2 separate regions of the Homo sapiens genome follow, and region 2 is linked to region 1. The links come from fine-mapping of genetic effects on gene expression. A gene starts in region 1. The other region holds a variant in brackets. All regions are shown on one strand. Distances are from middle to middle. Region 1 holds the start of KCNS2 (potassium voltage-gated channel modifier subfamily S member 2). Region 2 has its middle 15 kb from the start of NIPAL2.

What was found.
Region 2: its variant is fine-mapped to the expression of KCNS2 in fibroblasts (GTEx, PIP 0.98).

Annotation. Positions count from the first base shown.
Region 1 is chr8:98,425,274-98,428,181 of GRCh38, reverse strand. It overlaps KCNS2 (potassium voltage-gated channel modifier subfamily S member 2), which reads right to left and starts at 1,224. Exons shown (of 2, transcript NM_020697.4): 1 at 853-1,224; 2 at 1-244. The coding sequence starts at 202. It also overlaps a transcript of STK3 not described here. RefSeq lists a silencer at 1,125-1,324.
Region 2 is chr8:98,307,878-98,310,785 of GRCh38, reverse strand. No RefSeq gene overlaps it. Among named protein-coding and RNA genes, the nearest start is that of NIPAL2, 15 kb to the right of the region's middle. The variant T/C (reference allele first, on the strand shown) is at 1,676.

The sequences.
Region 1 (2,908 bases):
CCCGCTGGACGTCGTCGTAGTCATCGCAGAGCTCCAGAATGGCCTCGCGCGAGTGGCAGAGCAGCAAGCGGCCCAGGCGCGTCTCGGGGAAGCGCAGCAGCGTGTGCGAGCGCAGCCTCCTCTTGAAGCCGCCCACATTGATGCGGATCTCCCCGTCCTCGACGTTAGCCTCCGACACGTCCCACAGGCTCTGGCCGGTCATGCTGGAGGCGCCGGCCGCCCGCGCCGCGCGGGGGCGCTACACCTGGAAGCGGAGGGAACAGCGTCGGCGAGAGCGCCGTGCGCCCTGGCGGGGCCCCCTCTCCCTACCCATTACTGGCGGGCCCAGGCCTCCTGGTGGGTCTTGGGTGCTGAAGGGCTGGGCTGGGGCAAGAGTTTGAGGGGTCTGATCCCCTCCCAGGAAAGGCTGGGGGTGGGTATGTTTCTATTAGCACAGCTCCACCCCAGGGGTCTCGGTGGGCGCTTTGCGCGTGCGGGGTCGCGTCCCCGCGGCTCTGAGCGCCCAGGGGGCTGCATGCTGACCTTGTCCATGGGCAGGCCCGGGAGACGCCCCCGCCCGCTCGCCGCAGACAGGCGGGACCGGAGCTGAGATACGCACGGGCAGGGCCGGGCCGACACGGGGGGCGCGTAGCTTTGGTGGGGTGGGGGGGATGCGCTGGAGTCTGGAAACCCGGGCCGCGGGAATGAGGGGGGCGGCCCGGCCTCCCCTGGGTCCAGATCCCACGCCTGCAGCCCCCGCGTCCCCGGCCCAGGTCTCCCTGCCGGCCTGGCGCTATGCCCCGGGGCCGCGTGCGCTGCGCCTCACCCAGCGGGGCTGCCCGGGCTCGCCCTGCGCGTTCTGGAAGCGCTTACCTGGGAGCACGGGTGCCCGCGGCCGAGGCCGGCGGGAAACTTCCCCAACCCGCGGGCGAGCATCGCGGCGGTGGCCGCTGCCTGCTGGCGGTGCGTGCGCGGGTGCGAGTGTGTGCGCCCGGCGGGCCGGCGGGCGGGGGCCGCCGAGCGTCTCCTCCCGTCTCGGGCCGGGTACGCCGCCGCCGCCCGCAGCTGCCGAAGGCTCACAGGTGGCTGCGTGGTCCCGCCGCTCCCGGAGCCCCCTCTCCGGATCCGCGCGCCCCTCACCCACCCAGAGAGGCAGGAACCCGCGCCGCATTCGCCCCGTGAGCCGGGGCGGGAGCAGAGCGGGTGTGACGGGGCGCCCGCCCTGCGCGGGGCGCGGCGCGGTGGTGCTGAACGGACAGCTCCGCGTGCCTCGGCCGCCGCCCGGGCTCGGAAGGCGCAGCCGCCGCCGCCGCTGCTTCTCTGCGCTTCCCCGGCGCGTCACCGCGACCACCTTGCGCCCCCGGCTCGGCGCGGGGCCGACACCTCTCCCTTCCCCCCGACCATCCCCCGGTGACAGCTGTTATTATCACCACCCCCAGGGCGCAGGCAGGGGGCTGCCTACGGTGACCTTTCCCCGCTGGGTCTGGCGGGAGCTGGGCTGGGAAATAAAGGGCGGCTTGCGCGTGTCCGGGGACAGGGCGGGACCGGAGGAACTCCAGGTGTCCCCTTTTAGGGACCTGAAGAAAAGTTTCCCGAAGCCCGGGGGTGGGGTTGTTGGGGAACAGGAGCTGGAGGGGAAAAGAGGGGGCCGGGAAGTCCAAGGTGGAGATCGGCTTAGTACGCGGGGGGCGGGAGCGCAGGCCGCACGGCGGGGGCGGGAGTCGCTGAGTTCTGGTCGGGAGCTCTGTGTGGGCACAGTTTGTGTCCAGGCCGGTGTGGTGTGCTGGCTGTGCGGGACTGCAGGGCGCTGTGTGTGTATGTAGGCTGAGGACAGCAGGACTTTTCAGTGTCTGTGTGTACCGCGTTCATTAAAATGGGTCCTCTGTCGGATGGGAAGATGCGTCGGCACAGGGGGGACCTGGGACGTGTGTCAGCGCAGTGTGTGGCATGGGGAACCGTGTGCTGTGTGTACATGTGCTGTGTACAGTGTAGTACTCTTGGGACTGTGACGGGCTCATGTGTGTGGAATATGTTGAGAGCGGTGTGCTTGCCGACAGTGGGGACTGGGGGGTTCAAGCTGGAGTGGGGACTGGTAGATGTGCTCAGGATCTGTGTCCCTATTCCTAAGAAGACTCGTGGCCCAGATCTGAGCTCTTGGTCTGCTGGGATTGTCCTTAAGGCCCTGCCTACTGGGCTGAGCTGAGAAATGGACCCAGTCCCTGGGGAGCCCCCTCCCTTTGGTGTTTCTCTGTGGTGTCCACTTGCAAAGACTGGAGCACCGTGGTTGTGTGAGCTTAGCAGGGAGCTAGCGTCTACATGTCTCGGTCAGAAGTCCTGGGAATGCCCTTGCAGGGTGGCTCTGGATTCATGGTGCAACCACCACTGCCACAGTGGGAAGTACATTCTTTCTTTACGCAATCCTGGCAATGCCGTCCCAGCTGAAAAGGTGCTCTGTGTAGCTCTGGAGGGCTTGGGGCCTCCTTGGAGGACCTGTAGAGGACCGTTAATCTGGCTTCGAATGGGGGCTCCTGCATCCAAGTCTGACCCATCCCTGTGACCCACTGGCTTCTGGACATGTGTGTGGGTGTGAATGCAGGTGTGTTTCCTGCTGAGAGGGCTTCACACCCATGCCCCTGCAGGCCTCTGCAAATGTGGTGGATTCCACAGAGGCAGCCACATGGGAGAGGGATAGTAGGGTAGTGAGGGCCACACACACTTCCTCTTTCTTGTGTATGACCTTTCCCCAGGCTTTGGGAAACTTTTCTTCAGGTCCCTAAAAGAGGAATCCAGTCCTCCATTCTGCCCTACCCTCAAACACACACAAGCCACCCTTTATTTCCCAGTGTGTTTGTGTGTGTGTGTGTGTGTGTGTGTCTGAGAGGGAGAGACGGAGAAAAATCTGATCTTGGTTATCCTTGTCTTCATCTCC
Region 2 (2,908 bases), 120 kb after region 1:
TATGGCTTGAGTTACATTTCTATTGGACAACGCTGGTCTAGACTTAAGAGGAGATTTGGACATTTCTGAATGTCCTCCTGGGTGTGAGACAGAGCAGAGACTCTTCTTAGGGGACTGCCACCCTGCCCCAAGCATGGAAATAAAGGAAAATCTGGAGTTCCTTCAAGGGAAATTCCAAACACCTAGCCAGCCCTGAGATGTAAATAAGCAACCTGATAAGCAAGAGGGTAATAATTGCTGAAAACAATAGCAAAGGAAGTTAGAGCCACAAGATGTTCGGTTCCCTATAGAAACTAAAGACAGGTCGGGCATGGTGGCTCATGCCTGTAATCCTAACACTTTGGGAGGCTAAGGCAGGAGGATCCCTTGAGCTCAAGAGTTCAAGACCAGCCTGGGCAACATAGGGAGACCTTGTCTCTAAAAAAGAAGAACTAAAGATAACATCTTCACATATGTCCCTGAGTTGTTTTTCAGAAACTCACACCCCCCACCAAATGGAAAATGTCGTTCACTGGCACATAGACCTCAGGTAAGGGAGAAGTGAGGACTCAGTGCCATTCTTTGTTCTAAATTTCTTCCTGAGGGGACTTGAAGAGTCACATGCAGAGGCCAGACCTCAACATTCCTTTCTGCTGACCCCAAGTTTTTAGACAAAGCTTTGCTTCCTTAACCGGAGAATCTTTGAATCCCCCAATGACCGGTAAGCCCCTGCTTCAAGATATCCTATCTTTTTAGGCCAAACCAATCTCTAACCTCCATGTGCTGATTTATGATTTCACTTCTGCTTTCCTGAAGTGTACCCCTGCCTTTAAAAACCTTTGCCTGTAAGTCAGCAGGCAGTCTTAAGCACAAGCTGCCCAATTCTTATTCCTTGGTGTCCTGTAAATAAATGCCCTCCTTTCCCTCACTGCAAACCTCGGTGAGGGTGTTTGTCTTTAGTGTGCAGGGTGAGCGGACCCAGGTTTGGCTCAGTAACAGGTGGAGCTATTAAGGCAGCAATGGAACAAATCTGAAAACCTGAAACGTAAGCATATCTTGTAAAGGTAGAATGATTTATGAGCATCTCTGTCTTGTTTGCACCATTGTAAAGGATTTCTTCCTAGTGCTCTATGTGCTGGACACTGTGCTAGGTGTTGGGGCTACAGGATAAACCAGGCAAAGGTGGTCCTGCCCTCCTCAAGCTTGCTCTCTAGCTACGTGATTCAGTCTCTCCCTTCATCAGGAGAGTTTCTGCTACTGCTGTCTTTGGAGGAGAATGGATAGGGAAGCATGACATTTGATATTTATTTGTTTTTCATCATGACTAAATGTATTGAATGTTTACTCTGTATCAGGCACTTTTAATTCCTTGTCTCCTGGAATCCTCATTAATCAATCACCCTACAAAGCAGGAACTATTATTATTCCTGTAAAAAGGAGTAAACTGAGGATTGGGAAGTAAAATAAGTTGCCCAAAGCCAAACAGATGGTCAGAAACAGAGCCCGAATTGAAACCCAGATCTGCCTGAATGCAGTGTTCCACAGCTAACCACTATACACATACTACACTGGCTAACTTTCTTTTTTTAGAGAGAGAGGGCAGGGGCGGTGTGGGGGGGGATGGCACGGGTCTCTCACTTTGTTGCCTAGGCTGGTCTTGAACTCCTGGCTTCAAGAGATCCTCCTGCCTTAGCCT[T/C]CCAAAGTGCTGGGATTACAGGCGTGAGCCACTGCACCTGGCCTGTTGCTATTTTACAACTGAGGAAACTGAATCCCAGAAAAGTGAAATAACCCAGCCAAGATCATGGAGCTACTAAACTGTGGCAACATTATTTGAATCTTAGTCCTCTTACATGTAAAGTTCTTTAAATATTCCATCTCTCTAAAGTTCCCATAAAAATATATATGTTGGTGGCACTGCCTGTAACCCCAGCACTTTGGGAGGCCGAAGCGGGCAGATCACTTGAGGCCAGGAGTTTGAGACCTGCCTGGCCAACATGGCAAAACCCCATCTCCATAAAAATGCACACACACAATAATAGCCAGGTGTGGTGGCGTGCTTATAATCTCAGCTACTTGGGAAGGTGAGGCATGAGAATCATTTGAACCTGGGAGGCGGAGGCTGCAGTGAGCCGAGATTGCACCACTGCACTTCAGCCTGGGCAACAGAACAAGATGCTGTCTCAAAAAAATAAAAATTAAAATTAAAAAAGGTATATTTTAAACGTGTGGAAGATAAAAGCTAGCCTTCTTAGCTTGGTGTGTTGGTGAACACCTGTAGTCCCCTGTAGTCCCAGCTACTCGAGAGACTGAAGTGGGACGATCACGTGAGCCCAGGAGGCCGAGGTTGCAGTGAGCCGTAATTGTGCCGCTATACTCCAGCCTGGGGCACAGAGCAAGCCCCTGTCTCAAAGAAAAGGAGAGGATCCAGTTTCAGCTTTCTACATATGGCTGAAACTGGATCCCTTCCTTACACCTTATACAAAAATCAATTCAAGATGGATTAAAGATTTAAACATTAGACCTAAAACCATAAAAACCCTAGAAGAAAACCTAGGCATTACCATTCGGGACATAGGCATGGGCAAGGACTTCATGTCCAAAACACCAAAAGCAATGGCAACAAAAGACAAAATTGACAAATGGGATCTAATTAAACTAAAGAGCTTCTGCACAGCAAAAGAAACTACCATCAGAGCGGACAGGCAACCTACAAAATGGGAGAAAATTTTCACAACCTACTCATCTGACAAAGGGCTAATATCCAGAATCTACAATGAACTCAAACAAATTTACAAGAAAAAAACAAACAACCCCATCAAAAAGTGGGCAAAGGACATGAACAGACACTTCTCAAAAGAAGACATTTATGCAGCCAAAAAACACATGAAAAAATGCTCATCATCACTGGCCATCAGGGAAATGCAAATCA